4 linked regions of the Homo sapiens genome follow. The protein of the gene in region 1 purifies or fractionates together with the protein of each later gene. This does not show direct contact. Each region holds a gene or a part of one and is shown on either strand. Other genes may lie near its edges.

The links. Proteins that work in one complex are often made in the same cells at the same time.
Region 2: the proteins of UBXN11 (region 1) and COL1A1 purify together in Homo sapiens (affinity purification with mass spectrometry; 3 studies listed by BioGRID and IntAct, with this or other methods). This does not show direct contact.
Region 3: the proteins of UBXN11 (region 1) and ABI1 purify together in Homo sapiens (affinity purification with mass spectrometry; 3 studies listed by BioGRID and IntAct, with this or other methods). This does not show direct contact.
Region 4: the proteins of UBXN11 (region 1) and VCPIP1 purify together in Homo sapiens (affinity purification with mass spectrometry, with the first as the bait; one study listed by BioGRID). This does not show direct contact.

Annotation. Positions count from the first base shown.
Region 1 is NC_000001.11:26,295,755-26,300,977, forward strand, and holds part of UBXN11 (UBX domain-containing protein 11), read right to left. Parts: coding exon 5,172-5,223; intron 2,309-5,171; coding exon 2,208-2,308; intron 1,728-2,207; coding exon 1,673-1,727; intron 1,242-1,672; coding exon 1,165-1,241; intron 1-1,164. UniProt on the Homo sapiens protein: May be involved in the reorganization of actin cytoskeleton mediated by RND1, RND2 and RND3. Promotes RHOA activation mediated by GNA12 and GNA13.
Region 2 is NC_000017.11:50,195,132-50,198,631, forward strand, and holds part of COL1A1 (collagen alpha-1(I) chain preproprotein), read right to left. Parts: intron 3,374-3,500; coding exon 3,302-3,373; intron 3,075-3,301; coding exon 3,030-3,074; intron 2,872-3,029; coding exon 2,818-2,871; intron 2,655-2,817; coding exon 2,601-2,654; intron 2,103-2,600; coding exon 2,049-2,102; intron 1,933-2,048; coding exon 1,879-1,932; intron 1,540-1,878; coding exon 1,486-1,539; intron 1,398-1,485; coding exon 1,353-1,397; intron 1,237-1,352; coding exon 1,183-1,236; intron 1,069-1,182; coding exon 1,024-1,068; intron 846-1,023; coding exon 792-845; intron 535-791; coding exon 436-534; intron 348-435; coding exon 303-347; intron 200-302; coding exon 101-199; intron 1-100. UniProt on the Homo sapiens protein: Type I collagen is a member of group I collagen (fibrillar forming collagen).
Region 3 is NC_000010.11:26,854,459-26,857,958, forward strand, and holds part of ABI1 (abl interactor 1), read right to left. Parts: intron 1-3,500. UniProt on the Homo sapiens protein: May act in negative regulation of cell growth and transformation by interacting with nonreceptor tyrosine kinases ABL1 and/or ABL2. May play a role in regulation of EGF-induced Erk pathway activation. Involved in cytoskeletal reorganization and EGFR signaling.
Region 4 is NC_000008.11:66,632,732-66,636,231, reverse strand, and holds part of VCPIP1 (deubiquitinating protein VCPIP1), read left to right. Parts: intron 1-859; coding exon 860-1,731; 3' UTR 1,732-3,500. UniProt on the Homo sapiens protein: Deubiquitinating enzyme involved in DNA repair and reassembly of the Golgi apparatus and the endoplasmic reticulum following mitosis. Necessary for VCP-mediated reassembly of Golgi stacks after mitosis.

The sequences.
Region 1 (5,223 bases):
CTGTGTACTCGTTTGTTCCCCTCCCCACAGACTGGCAGCCTCATGCAGGCGGGGGACTATGTCTGTCTTGGTCATGCTCTGCCCCAGGCCTGCCCCAAGCAGATCCTCCAGATGAGGCTGTTAAATGAATGAAGTGATAACTGTGTGGCGGAGACGCATGCAAGGGCAGTCATGCCCCTGCCCCGAGGCTCTGGTGCAGCCCTCACCGCCTGTGGCCACTGCTCGGGGACAACCCCAGGTATGAACAGCTTGGAGTGGGAAGGGCTCTCAGCTGCAATTGGAGGTTTGCTGCCAAGGTTTTAAATTAGATTGGGACTTTGGAAACCAATTCTGCGTGGAGAGGGAGAGAGGCTGAATCCCAGGAAGAACTTCTGGCAGGGCCCATGCGTGCCTGGGACCCTTCTCTGTGCCTGGTGTCCCTCTAGTTCCCTTGCTGTTTGAATGGGTCTGTGAGCGGGGGAAAGAAAGGTGACTGGGGTCACTGAGTCCCCAGTGAGCAGAAGTCACAGCCAGAGGCAGCAAATTGCTTAACCAATTCAGTGCTAGGTCCTGGGTGCACAGTGACATACAGGAGGAAACTGCTCCCTCCGTCGTGGAGTTCAGAGTCCCACAAGGGAAGAGAGATGAGGCACTGAGAAAGCTCGGGATGGAAAACCTGCCTAGGAGGCCCGGGGGATATGACTGAGGACAGTGGAACTGACCTGGGGGAGGTGGGGAAACATTTCAGCAGAGGGAACAGCAACAGCACGGCCCAAGGCCCTGAGGTGGGAAGCAGCTCCATGAGGTCAAAGACCCAGAGGAAGGGCCTCATGGCTGGAGGGGAGAGTGGTTCAAGCTAAGATGAAGAGGCATGCAGGGGCCAGCCCGCAGGGGCCACAGCGAGGACTGTAGAATTCAGTTCAGTGGGAGCCATGAGGTCTGCTAAGCAGGGGAGAGGCATGTTCAGAGGGCCCAAAAGCAGGGGTGTGCCCCAGCCCCAGACACCTCCCTGGCTCTTTAAAGTCTGGGCCAGTCCTGGGTAGGGAAATGCAGGGCAGGGTCCCTGGGTGGGATGTGACGAGGAGAGGCCCAGAGAGGTGGGCTCGGACCCAGCTCCTGAGGAACATGCCGTGAAGAGCTGGGGACTGCTGGCTGCCCGCATCCCCCGGGGCCCAGCTCTCTCACCTCCATCTCCCTGACCTGCCGCTGCAGCTGCACACACATCGTCTCCAGTTCCTCCTGCCGCTGCAGGGTTGCCTCGGCTTCAGGGAAAGACAGGGACAGGCTTCAGCTGCCCCAGCAAGACACTGCCAGGTCACCTCTGCCCTGAGGGTCATCTGGAGAAGCTGTTCTGGGGATCCCCCAAGAACTGCCTCTTGGCCCCCCACCTCTCTGGCCTCTCCTCTGACCCCGTGGCGGTGCCTTGATGGGCCCTAGGAGGCTGCCACTCCCCTCAGAGCCTCCTCTCCTCCACACTTCAGATGGGACTCGGTCCCATGTAGGAGGGCATGGAGTGACTCCAGCACTGTCCTGGATATGCTGCAGCCCCTCTGTGGGCTCAGCTGTCCAGACCCCACCAAGTAGTCAGCTTGATGCTCTTGATGCCAGAAGCCATTGTGAAGCTTCCAGGAGCCCTGGGCCCAGGGGAGGTGCCTGACTGGGGGCGCAGGTCAGCCCTCCAAGAGCCCCCTACCTGGGTGTGGCCGGAGGGTCTGCACCAGGTCCTCTAGGGCCGCTATCTTCTGATCCTGTAGCATAAGACACAGGGTGAGCACAGGGCCTGTGGTTCCCAGAGCCCTGCCCAGACAGGAAGCTCCAGAGCTTTGCCTATGTTGGATGCTGGGGAGCAGCAAGCCCCTGCCACCCTTTGGCACAGCCACTTCTCCCGGACCTCAGATAACCCTCGCAGTTCCTCTGAGGTAGGGAGAGGTGCGGCCCACACCTGAGGACCCCCACATCTGAGGGTGCCGCGCTCTGCTCAGCAGTCCACTGTGCCACCCAGTCCAGGGTCTACTGGGTCCTGCTCAGCTGAGGGGAAGACCCCCCAGCCTCTCGGCTCAGGTCACAGGACCTAGATCAGGCCCAGGCCACACCTGGTCCTCGAACTGGGCAGGTCAGTGTGGTAGACGGTTCTAGAATCACCCACCCTAGTCCAACTCCTGGCCTCCCCAGCCCAGTCCCTCCACCTCTCAGACCGGCCCCTGGCCCTCTCCCACCTGGAGCCCCACCTTGGACAGTATCTCATCAGTCTGGGCCTTCACCTGCTGCTCCAGGTCCCACAACTTCCTCGTCATGAAGGCCATCAGCTCCGAGTCATGGGATGCAGGGACTGCCAAGCACACAAAGTCTTTAGAGCCCAGACCTAGAGCCGAGGCTGAGTTGTGGGGGGGAGGGAGGAGGATAGGGGTCCCAGGAATGGAAATGAAGGTACTGAGAGCAGCTCCCACTGGCATCATAGGAACTGTTCTAAACACTTCATGTAGATCAACCCCCTGTAATCCTTGAAACACACCCAGGAGGTAAATGAACTGTTTTAGGAAACTGAGACACAAAGGGATCAAGTAATTTGTCCAACATATACAAGGAAGTGGTGTAACATATGGGTGACATCACCCTGAAGCATTGCCAAGAATTTCACCCTCGATCTAATCAAACCTCCAAATCTAGTGTCCAGTTGGTACGCAAAACAGCAGATAGAGGAGTGAGGCAAATACCCCACGGGCAAACTGCCAGACAAAGCCAGAATGCGGGGTGCTGTAGAAAACAGTAGCCAGGGCCGGGCATGCGGTGGCTCATGCCTGTAATCCCAGCACTTTGGGAGGCCAAGGCAGGTGGATCACTTGAGGCCAGGAGTCCAAAACCAGCCTGGCCAACATGGTGAAACCCTGCCTCTACTAAAAATACAAAAATCAGCCGGGCGTGGTGGCAGGTGCCTGTAATCCCAGCTACTCGAGAATCGCTTGAACCCAGGAGGCGGAGGTTGCAGTGAGCCAAGATCGCACCACTGCACTCCAGCCTGGGTAACAGAGTGAGGGACTCTGTCTCAGAAAAAAAAAAAAAAAAAAAAAAGTATGAAAATGGAAAAGAAGAGAAACCTACAGGAAGAAGCAGGCCTTTTCCTTTTCTTCCCCTAGACAGTGTCCTTTCTATGTATGAAGCAGGAACCGCGGCCATCATCCTACAACCACATGAGGCTGACATGTCAAGGCAGGTTCAGTGGAAAGATGGAGAAACCTGAGCCCCTGATGATGTCTTGGAGTCACTGAATTAACACCCCTGGAGCTGCCTCTTTAGGATTTCTTTGCATGTGGGATAACAAAACTTCCTTAATGTTCTTGTTGGCTGAGGAAGGGTTTTCTTTGACTTATAGTTAAATGCATCTTAATTGACAAACATTTGGGAACTGTCTACACATGGAGTGCAGGTGAGCTCACTGGGGCACAGTGGACACAGAGGAGAATCCAGGCCAGAGGAACATCACATTGAAAAGCTGAGGGCCTGGGTGCAGTGGCTCGCACCTGTAATCCCAGCACTTTGGGAGGCCGAGGCGGGCAGATCACTTGAGACCAGGAGTTCGAGACCAGCCTGAGCAACATAGAGAAACCCTGTCTCTACTAAAAATACAAAAATTAGCCAGGCATGGTGGTGTGTGTCTGTAGTCCCAGCTACTTGAGAGGCTGAAGTGGGAGGACTGCTTGAGCCTGACAGGTCGAGGCTGCAGTAAGTAGTGATTTGCACCGCTGCACTCCAGGCTGGGCAACAGAGCAAGGCAGTCTCCAAAAAAAAAAAAAACAAAAAAAAAACCTGAGAGAAAAAAGGAGGTGGTGATGACAGCTAAGAGACAGAGCCTAGAAGCAGAGGGTAATGGGAGGGCAGCAGCTTGGTGCCTAAGAGCTTGGTGGAGGTCCTGAGAAGGAAGGAGCAGTGGACAGTATAGGACACTGCTGGCAGAGAAGTAAAATAAGATAGGCAAGTCCTCATCTGTTACCTTGGTAGGGACAGATATTGGCTGGGAGTGGGAGAGGAGGGGATGACAGGGGAAAGCAGGGAGAGGACACCTGGAGCTCTTTCAAAGAGAGAACCTGGTTGCCATGGTTACTACTGAAAGTGACCTGGCTGGGTATGGTGGCTCATGCCTGTAATCCCAGCACTTTGGGAGGCTGAGGCAGGAGGACTGATTGTGCCTGGGAGGCTGAGGTTGCAGTGAGCCATGATCGCACCACTGCACTCCAGCCTGGATGACAGAGCAAAACCCTGTCTCAAAAAAAATAAAATAAAAAAGAAAGTTGACCCCAGCCAGGGTATAGGAGATCTTGGCTTTGTGGTGAAATGGCCGCAGAACCTTAGGCCAGGCTCTTCCTGTCTCTTTTTCCACCTCAATTCCCTCCTCCGGTAAAATGGAAGGGGCCTGAGGGAGAATCATCAGGCCCTTCCCTATGGCTGGCCTCCTGATGGGCAGCCACCACACTGAGCACCTCGCGTGACAGGCGCTGGCCAGGGGCCCTCCACCGAGGAGCATCTCATTGAATCCTCCCAACACGCTGCCCTCGCTGTTCCCATGCCCACTTCACAGAGGAGGCCTCAGAGACAGAGAGATGCGAAGTTGCTTGCTCAAGATACCACAGCTAGTGAGCTAGTGGAAAGTTCTAACCTTATCCCCAGCATCCCCAGATCCCGCCCAGCACTCTGCAGGGCTCATCCCTGCCTGCCCATGTCTCCCCTTTTCTCAGACCTGCTAAATCCCCACTCTGGGAAGCCACCCTGATTAGCCCCATCCCACTTTAGGTGCCTCCATGAGCTCAGCATTGCCACAGCCCTCTGCCAAGCTAAGCAGACTGTCTAGGCGACTTTGGGCCTTGCCAGAGCCCTGCAGAAGCAGGAAGCTGAGCTCTACCCTCAGACTTCATCCCTCTCTGACCCTGAATCCTGAGCCCACTGATATCACACCTGGTAACTATAGCCACAGCCTGGCCTGGGGCTGGGGCTGGGGCTGGGCCTCGGCCTCCTGAGCTAAGGGTGGGGCTTGTGTGGCTTTATGCCAAGCCAGGTCCCTGCCACAATCAGCCAGGAGTGGAAGCAGCTGCCTCAGACCAAACAGGCGAGAGGAAGGGCCATGCCTCCCTAGGCCTTGCCCCGTCTCTGGGGCCCCCTCCTGCAGCCAGGACCCAGACCCTTCAGGCCTCTGCTCTCACCTTGCCGACTCACAGGGGCACCTATGCCGCCATAGCAGGAAGGGACTGAGAT
Region 2 (3,500 bases), on another chromosome or scaffold:
GTCGGGGGCGCTCAGTTGGCCTGCGTCTTCCTGCTCCCCAGATGAGAGCCGCACTGGAGCCAGTGCATGGGGTGGGCAGAAGGGAGAGTTTGGTACTCACGCTGTTACCCTTGGGACCAGGAGGGCCGCCGGGGCCCTGGGGTCCAGAGGGGCCTCGGGCACCAGGGAAGCCAGGAGCACCAGCAATACCAGGAGCACCCTGTGGGAGGCAGACAGCCAGGGCGTGAGCCTAGGAGCAGAGGGAAAGGGGCAGGCAGGCTGCAGGCGGCAGGAGTGGGACTGAAGCCTGGCAGGATACTTACATTGGCACCTTTAGCACCAGGCTGTCCATCAGCACCAGGGTTTCCCTGTGGCACAGAGAAAGGAGTGTCAGCAACAGGCAAGGACTCTGAGGTTAGAAAGTGGCAAAGGGGACACTGAGTCGGGGACACTTACAGCAGGGCCAGCAGCACCAGCAGGGCCAGGGGGGCCAGGCTCACCACGCACACCCTGGGGACCTTCAGAGCCTCGGGGCCCTTGGGGACCAGCTTCACCCTGAATCAGAAGAAAGGACATATCAGAAGCCACCCTGGGAAACCCAACCTTGCCTCTCGGGATGGCAGGAGGAAGGGGAGACAGGGACAGGAGAGCAATGATCAGGACTCTAAGATCAGAGACGGAGAACCCAGGACAAAGGTGTTAGTGAACGGGCTGCTCTCTTGCCACTCTGGGTCCCTTTGGTTTGGGGAACAGGGAGACATGAACCCCTTGGCCCATGAGGGTCATGCTTAGAGGAGAGTGGGGGGTCTCACCTTAGCACCAACAGCACCAGGGAAGCCAGGAGGACCAGCGGGGCCGGTGGGACCCTGTGAATGAAATGGAGATGTCAGCGAGAAGGAAGAGATGGCAGCTGCAAGTCACACCCTGGGACAGAGGAAGTCCTGGGGTTCAGACCAACATAACCTGCTCCCATTGTCAGCCCCAAGAGCAGATACTGAGACCCCTCCCCACTCCCAGGCCCTGAGGCCTACAGGCCACACTCACAGGGGGCCCGGCAGCACCAGTAGCACCATCATTTCCACGAGCACCCTGCAGGAGAGAGGGGAAGCCCCGTTAAGTCCACTGAGCACTGGCCAGTCCCTAGAGTTCCTGGGGAGCCCCTTCCAGAGCTCAGGGATCCCCCAAGGGGCCAGGAGTACTTACAGCAGGGCCAGGGGCTCCAGGGCGACCTCTCTCACCAGGCAGGCCACGGGGGCCCTGACAACCAAACCAAGAGAAGTCAGATGAGATGGGAGACAGCCTTGTTCCCCCAGGCCTCCATCTTGCCCCTGCCTCCTGCCCCATCCCTGCCCTCTGGAACTGGGCACACTCACCATCTGACCAGGAGCTCCATTTTCACCAGGGCTGCCAGGCTCACCCTGTAGATCAGAGAATAATGAGTGAGAAATTCATTCATGGTGGGACTCTGGGGATGTGGAGGACCATGATGTTCAGACAGCCTCTTACCTTAGGACCAGCAGGACCAGCATCTCCCTTGGCACCATCCAAACCACTGAAACCCTAAAGCAGGAAAGAGGTAGAAGGTAAGAACCTGTGGAGGGGGTGGAACAGCCTTGACATCCACCTAGATCTGAGAAAGAGCCTTGGGAGGTCATCACCGCCATCCCTTTGTTTCTGAGCTAGACTAAACCCCAACTGGCTCTAGATCTCACCCAATCGTTTAATCGGGACTGCTTTCCCATGGAGGGAGGTGCTTTTGGATGTCCACTCTCTGTCCCTTGGGACTTCTGTAGCTGCCACCCACCATGATGCAACTCAGTATCTTTTGGGGAAGAGGTTGGGACTGGATGGGGGTATGCTAGGGACTTGGGGAGCTTAAATGACTCAAAGGTGACTCACTCTGTGTCCCTTCATTCCAGGGAGGCCAGCTGTTCCGGGCAATCCTCGAGCACCCTGGAGAGAGATGAAGAAGACAAGGAAGGGCCATTAGAACACATCACTGTGGACCCAGCTCCTAAATGAAGCCCAAGTGCAGTGAAGCCCAGGTTCAGCCACAGCCCCCTGCTCACCTGAGGCCCAGGAGGCCCACGCTCACCAGGACGACCAGGTTTTCCAGCTTCCCCCTGAGAGGGAGAGAAAAGACCATCATGCCTCTGCCTCCCCACCACCGCCTAGGGGCTGGAAAAGTGGAGAAGGTCTCAGTCTTCTTTGGATTGTTGCAGGTCAGGTTTGGGGGCCCAGAATCTTATCTTTGAATCTAGAGCTCAGTTTAAATCTACAGTGAAACCTTCGTTTGGTGAAATCTGAGTGCCTCTAAAGGAATTTCTGTCTACTTCTGTCACCAGCATTTTAATTTCACCATCTGCGCACCAATTTCCCCAAAGGGATGGGGTTGGGGATTGCTCTAAGGTGGCTGGGGTGAGGAGAACAGTCACTTTGTTGGGGACATGGAATCATCTCACTAAGCGAAAAGATCATTGTTCCAGGGCAGTCCGTGCATCAGAGAGGACTTGCCCTCCTTCCTCTGAGTATCGTTCCCAAATGTGGTGGAGTGGAAATTGCAGGACCCAACCCATGGAGGCCATGGGGTCAGATGGTATCTTCTTGCTGGGGATACTTACATCATCTCCATTCTTTCCAGGGGGACCTGGGGGACCTCGGGGACCCATGGGACCCTAGAAAAGATAGAAGAGGTGGTTAGAATATGGATAAGAAAAAAAGAAGGGGAAGGCTGGGATTGAAGGGAAGAGGTAAGGAAGACCCCAGGCCTGGGAGTTCTTCTATAGGAGAGTCTGTGTGTTTGTAGAAGGAGTATGAATCTGTATAGAGAGTGCTTACTGAAGCTCCAGGCTCGCCAGGCTCACCAGGGGGACCTTGGAAGCCTTGGGGACCCTTGAGAAGAAGGAAAAAGATGGGTTAGAAGACAAGTCCCTGTCAACCTTCTCCAATCTTACCAAGAGATCTCTGAGCATCTCTCCTGCCCTCATCCCAGTCTTCCCTCCAAAAGACCAAAGCCCAAGGAGGCATATGAAGACGTCCTGGATACTCACAGGTGCACCAGGGGGGCCAGGGAGACCACGAGGACCAGAGGGACCCTATAGAGGGAGAAGAAAGGGGGGTCATGGTGATCCCTCTGTAGGAAAGCATGTGGATGTAGTCATTCATGCCTGTTGGGACCACCCAGTCGTCCTGCATCCTTTCTGGACTCTGAGGTCCCAAAGGTGATCTGGACCTCCCAAGCTGTCTATACCAGCCGCCTATGCCCACCTCCTCTGGATACCCATTCTCTCTTCTGTCATCCATGCTCCCCCTGCTGGCTCACCATGGGGCCAGGCACGGAAATTCCTCCGGTTGATTTCTCATCATAGCCATAAGACAGCTGGGGAGCAAAGTTCTAGAACAAACAAGAGAAGTCAGAGTGAGGACAGTGAATTGAAAGGCAGAAGACGGCACTGAGGATGGAAGAAACTGACATCATGCACTTCCTGGTGTGATGTGCTGAGAAGAATAACATTGCTTTT
Region 3 (3,500 bases), on another chromosome or scaffold:
AAAAAGGAAAGAAAAGAAAAAAAAAGAACTGATATGCTAGGTCAGATCCTGCTCTACCCAGCCCTGTATCACCTTGACACAACAGCATGAATAAACATGTAATGACATGGTATGGGTCGATTTAACAATTAACTGAGGATCTTCCATAAAATTATCTAACCTTCTGTTAAATACATTTACATTTCCAACCTACATCTCTAACTTTGCTAGTCACTGTTTTACTCACACTTCAAAGTGCAATTCTAGGAATTCTAACCATTCCAGTCTATCCTCATCTCCTGAATCACTTTGACTGTTTTTCCCCAAACCTGGTTTGTATAGAAATCACATCTACCCAGAATATTTCCACATATTTTTTGTTAATCTCTACAAATGCTTCTTCAAAATTTCTTAGCACAATTGCAACACAGACTAACAATAGAAAAAAGACAGGCAAGGATGCAGGAAAAGAAAAAAGGATCCAGGGAGCTCAGTGAAAAGCTAGGCTGTAATTCCTATACAGGTTCAGTATCCCTAATCTGGAAATCCAAAACCCAAAACTTCTTGAGCATCAACATGACACAAAAATAAATGCTCATTAGACTATTCTGGATTTCAGATTTTCAGATTAGGGAGGCTCAACCAGTAAGTATATAATGCAAACATTCCAAAATTCAAAAAAAAATCTGAAACATTTCTGGTCCCAAGCATTTTGAATAAAGGATACTTAACCTGTAGTTGAACACTTCAAATGCCAAAGTTACCATCTTTTGGTGATATAGGCAAGTCCCTAAATTACAAACATATCTCTTCTTATATTCACAACCTGGAAACAATGGTAAAGAGTTGTTAGGTTCCCAGGCTTGCCCAATACCAGTCTATTCTGTTTATTCCACGGTATTCCTGAACCAGTTTTGAGTTCTAGATTCTTTCATGTGAAAACAGTATGATATGAAAAGAGCACAGCCTATGGAGTCTGCCAGAGTCAGAAGGAAGTCCTGACTGCCAATTACTAACTCTATGACTAAACAAAACTTAACTTTTATGAGTCCTAATTTCCTCATATGTAAGACAGCACTGTCTGTCGTGGCGAGTTTGTAAGGATTAAAGATAATACAAAACCAACCAGCAGAGACTGCAATGGAGTACGTATTCAATAAATAGAGGCAATTATATTACCCTCTACCCTTCTCTATTACCCTCTGCGCACATTGTTTTTATCCCCTATGTTGCCATAAGAACCCTGTTTAGGGCCGGGTGCGGTGGCTCACACCTGTAATCCCAGCACTTTGGGAGGCCAAGGCGGGTGGATCACCCGAGGTCAGGAGTTTGAGACCAGCCTGGCCAATATGGTGAAACTCCGTCTCTACTAAAAATACAAAAATTAGCCAGGCATGGTGGTGGGCACCTGTAATCTCAACTACTCGGGAGGCTGGGGTAGGAAAATCACTTGAACCCAGGAGGCGGAGATTGCAGTGAGCTGAGATCGTGCCACCGCACTCCAGCCTGGGTGACAGAGCAAGACTCCATCTCAAAAAAAAAAAAAAAAAAAAAGAACCCCATTCTGGGCTGGGCATGGTGGCTCACACCTGTAATCCCAACTCCATGGGAGACTGAGGACAGTGGATCACCTGAGGCCAGAGTTCGAGATCAGCCTGGCCAACATGGTGAGACCCTGTCTCTACTAAAAATGCAAAAATTAGCTGGGTGCAGTGGCATGCACCTGTATTCCCAGCTACTCAGGAGGCTGAGGCAGGAGAATTGCTTGGAGGTTGCAGCGAGCTGAGATCATGCCACTGCACTCCAGCCTGGGTGACAGAGTAAGGCTCTGTCTAAAGAAAAAAAAAAAAAAACCCATTCAGGATTAATTAGATGGAATTTGGGATTTGGAATCGAGAAAATCTGGGTTTGATTCCAGGCCCCACCTCATACAAGCTACTGAACTTTAGGTTGGGTATTTAATACCTCGGAACCTCTAACTGTCCATCTGTTACTCAAAAAAAAAAAAAAAAAAAAAAAAAAAAACTGACACAGTTTGTAAACTGGCATAAAGTGTACAGTATCAGAAATGTTAGCTTTTACCTACTCCAAACGGATCCTGCTCAAAAATTACCCACCTTCTGAGATTAAATGTGCTAATGAAGCAAATGTCACAGGAGGAGGAAAGCAAGCTGAAGTGAGTAGCTCACAGTAACATACTGGGATGATATCCCCTTCATACTCCTAGGCTTTAGAACATACTTGTTAACCCAAATAAAGCTCCTGGTAGAAATCCAGACAAAAAATAAAATTAAATTTTAAAGTTAAGCTGTATGAAGACTTTTCTGTCCTTACCCCCAACCTACCAATCTGCATCCTGACAAACCTTCTTAAGCAGTTTCTACTCCTTTTCACTCGGCTTTCCTTCCTATTTCCCAGAATAGTTCCCATAACAAAGGCAGTATGAACTAACTCTAAGGTAGAGCACAGAGAACTGGCTAAACATGTGTGTTCAAATTAAGCACTGTCCTTGGCATGAAAAATTCAATCTGGTCATAGTAAAGGAATATGGAAAAGTCTCTTCTGTATGTCTACATAAATGACTATATAAAAACACTTTCAGCCAGGCATGGTGGCTCACACCTATAATCCCAACACTTTGGGAGGCCGAGGAGGGCAGATCACCTAAGGTCAGGAGTTCGAGACCAGCCTGGCCAACATGATGAAACCCTGCCTCTGCTAAAAACACAAAAAATTAGCCAAGCGTGGTGGTGGGCACCTATAATCCCAGCTACTTGAGAGGCTGAGGCAGGAGAATCGCTTGAACCCAGGAGGTGGAGGTTGCAGTGAGCCAAGATCGCACCATTGCACTCCAGCCCAGGCAATAGAGCGAGACTCCATCTCAAAAAAAAAAAAAAAAAAAAAAAAAAAAAACACTTTCTGGCAAGGTGCAGTGGCCTATGTCTGTAATACTGGCACACTGGGAGGCCAAGGCAGGCAGACTGCTTGAGACCAGGAGTTTGAGACCAGCCTAGGCAACATGGCAAAACCCCATCTCTACAAAACAAATACAGAAATTAGCTGGGAGTGGTGGTGCGCACCTGTAGTCCCAGCTACCTGGGGGGGCTGAGGTGGGAGGATCTCCAGAGCCCAGGAGGTTGAGGCTGCAGTAAGCCATGATGGCATCACTGCACTCCAGCCTGAGCAACAGAGCAAGACTGTGTCTCAAAAAAAAAAAAAAAAAAACTTTCTATTTTTAGTATTATTTACCCCATGGCAACTGTTAAAACCCTGTCCTTGCATATACCTGTGGTCTCAGCTACATGGGAGGCTGAGGTGGGAGGACTGCTTGAGCCCAGGAGGTCAAGGCTGCAGTGAATGGTGTTCACACACCACTGCACTCCAGCCTGGGTGACAGAGCAAGTCTGTCTCAAAAAAAAAAAAAAAAAGAAAGAAAAAAACTGTCCTTTTTAATGTAGTAGAATCTTTTCAGATGTTTTGCTATTAATAATACAACCTACTAGTTAAAAGTCAACAGAACC
Region 4 (3,500 bases), on another chromosome or scaffold:
GGAGTCTTGCTTTGTCACCCAGGTTGGAGTATAGTGGTATAGCGGCGCCATCTTGGCTCACTGCAACCTCCGCCTCCTGGGTTCAAGCAATTCTCCTGCCTCAGCCTCCCCAGTAGCTGGGACTACAGGCTCACACACCACCATGCCCAGCTAATTTTTGTATTTTTAGTAGAGACTGGGTTTCAACATTTTGGCCAGGCTGGTCTTGAACTCCTGACCTCAAGTGATCCACCTGTCTGCCTCCCAAAGTGCTGGGATTATATGCATGAGCCACTGCACCTGGCCTCAAGCTCCATTCTTTTTTTTTTTTTTTTTTTTGAGATAGAGTTTCACTCTTATTGTCCAGGCTGGAGTGCAGTGCCGCAATCTCAGCTCACTGCAACCTCTGCCTCCCAGGTTCAAGTGAGTCTCCTGCCTCAGCCTCCCAAGTAGCTGGGATTACAGGCGCCTGCTGCCATGCCCAGCTAATTTTGTGTATTCTCAGTAGAGTTGGGGTTTCACCACGTTGGCCAGGCTGGTCTCGAGCTCCTGACCTCAGGTGATCCACCTGCCTTAGCCTCCCAAAGTGCTGGGTTTACATGTGTGAGCCACTGTGTGACCTCAAGCCCCATTCTTAACTTTGCTGTTAGTTAAGATAGCAAAAAAATTTTTTTAAAAAAGATTCTCTGGGGAGAACTACTTTAGGGTCTATGGCGGTGGTTCTTTTTTGTAATACAATAAATCTGAATGAATTTTGTTTTGAAAGCTGTTATCTGTAAATTGTTATTTAAAATTCATTATTTTAACTATAATTGTCTTGACTACACTTTTATTAATACCTTAAGATTTTAATATGTTAAATATCTTTTCCCCTTTTTAGGTATGGCTGATGGCAAGCATTGTACTTTTCCACATCTGCCTGGCAAAACCTTTGTCTATAATGCTTCTGAAGATAGACTGGAATTGTGTGTGGATGCTGCAGGACATTTCCCCATTGGTCCTGATGTTGAAGATTTAGTTAAAGAGGCTGTAAGTCAGGTTCGAGCAGAGGCTACTACAAGAAGTAGGGAATCAAGTCCCTCACATGGGCTATTAAAACTAGGTAGTGGTGGAGTAGTGAAAAAGAAATCTGAGCAACTTCATAACGTAACTGCCTTTCAGGGAAAAGGGCATTCTTTAGGAACTGCATCTGGTAACCCACACCTTGATCCAAGAGCTAGGGAAACTTCAGTTGTAAGAAAGCATAATACAGGGACAGACTTTAGTAATAGTTCCACTAAAACAGAGCCTTCTGTATTCACAGCTTCTTCTAGTAATAGTGAGCTTATTCGAATAGCTCCTGGAGTAGTAACAATGAGAGACGGCAGGCAGCTTGATCCTGATTTGGTTGAGGCCCAGCGAAAAAAATTGCAGGAAATGGTTTCTTCTATTCAGGCTTCAATGGACAGGCACCTTCGGGATCAAAGTACAGAGCAGTCACCATCTGATCTTCCTCAAAGGAAAACAGAAGTTGTGAGTTCTTCTGCAAAGTCTGGGAGTCTTCAGACTGGTTTGCCTGAATCTTTTCCTTTAACTGGTGGTACTGAAAATTTGAATACAGAAACAACTGATGGCTGTGTAGCAGATGCACTGGGAGCAGCCTTTGCCACAAGGTCAAAAGCACAAAGGGGAAATTCCGTGGAGGAGCTTGAAGAGATGGATAGTCAAGATGCTGAGATGACTAACACAACTGAGCCAATGGATCACTCTTGATTTAATTAGAGGCTAATAAAGGCAGAATGTTTATTGTGAATATGTAATATTTGTTGGCTGGGCCACGTAACTTGATTAGTCATTAAAAATCTTGTACGTATATAATTCAAAGATTATATCTTGTTATTCAGTGCATGATAGCAAGTGTGTGATTGGCCATAGCTTTTAATATACTGCTGCCCAGGCTGGCTCTGAATTTCTATAAATTAGCTGTTAGATCTGCTGAGATGACTTTCTTCCATATATGTGGTTCATTGGAAGTTCTTTGTAATTTTAATTCCATGAAAGTCTTAATGTTTCCAACATGAAAATTCTCTTACTTAAATACGTTTGATTTCTGAAAAGCCTACAAATGGAGGGGAAATGAGATTGTGCTAATGTTGATGTCATCAAGGTAACCATCTCATATACTAGTGTCAAAAGGTTTATGTAAACTTGAATTTTATCTGAACTAAATTGTATCTTAAAATTCATACAATTATTTATTAGACAGTGGAATGCAAATGTTTCTATGAACGTAAACACATTCATAGAGATTTCTTGGCGAAAATATCTTGAGAATAGAATGTAACGATATAACATTTTGCTGATTTGTGCAAGATTGGGGAAAAATTTCTTCTAGATTGATGAGGTCAATGTGATTCAGTTGTGTTGCTGTCTGAGCCACAGCCAATTGTGTGTGCTCTATTAATATGTTACCATTATTTTTGATTCCTGGCTTGGTCAAGAACAACCTGATTTTTTTTTTTTTAATCTTGCAGAAAAGTTGATTGCAAAGTGTGGTAGAAAAAGAAATAATGGTAGCAGTAGAGAATTTATAAATAAGAGTTTATCTTTATGAATGAGTTAATTGTTCTACAATTTTGATCAGTGGTATTTAAGCCTGTATATGCTAAGTGTATTTATGCCCCTTTGAGCCAAAATTTTTTTTTTTTTTTCAGAATCCATAAGAGTTTATTTGTTGGCTTCACTTGGGTTTAGATGCAAATTTTACTGCATCACACCCTGATCAGCTGGGTATTTGCTTAGTGTATTCATCAAATCTTCAGTGCCAGTTTCCTTGAGAAGCAGCTTTCATGCTTATTCCTTAAAAACAACAGAAGAGTGTTTATCCTGAGATTGGTATTGCACTATTTTATTTTATTCTGCAAATCTGTATCCTGAAGTGTACATTTCAACCCATATTCTTCTCTGTTCACTGAAATTAAGTTGAATTTGAATGGCTGAAAGACAAAATATATGTTAATACAATCTCTTACCTAGAGCATTCAAAGCCTGGCTGTCTCTGTTTGCACATGTAACAGATGCAGAACTGTGTTTGTAATTCTAAGAAAATGTATGTCAGAAAGTATTTTATCAGATGTTTAAAAATCTCTGCCTGTTGATTCATAAGGGATATAGACAGTACTTTAACTTGTGTTTCCAGATAAGGCAGATTTTGGTCATCTTTCTGTGAAAGTATCTCTAACTGAATCCACTTCTTAAACAAACTACTCTATTTTAAATAAGGAAAGAATGGAGAATCTAGACATTTTACAGGTGTATCTGAGCAAAATATATATTTGGGTTAGTTTTTATCACATTATCACGTTTGTCTTTATATTTTATCTTCATCCTAAATTTTCTCCCTATCAAAACAGCAGGAAATTTTTAAACTTTTATATTGTACACTATTTTTGCATAAAATAAGAGCTGTAGCTACCAAATACTATTTACTACTTAGTAAAGGTGGCTTCTGTGTATTAAACTACGAATTACAAATATCACTT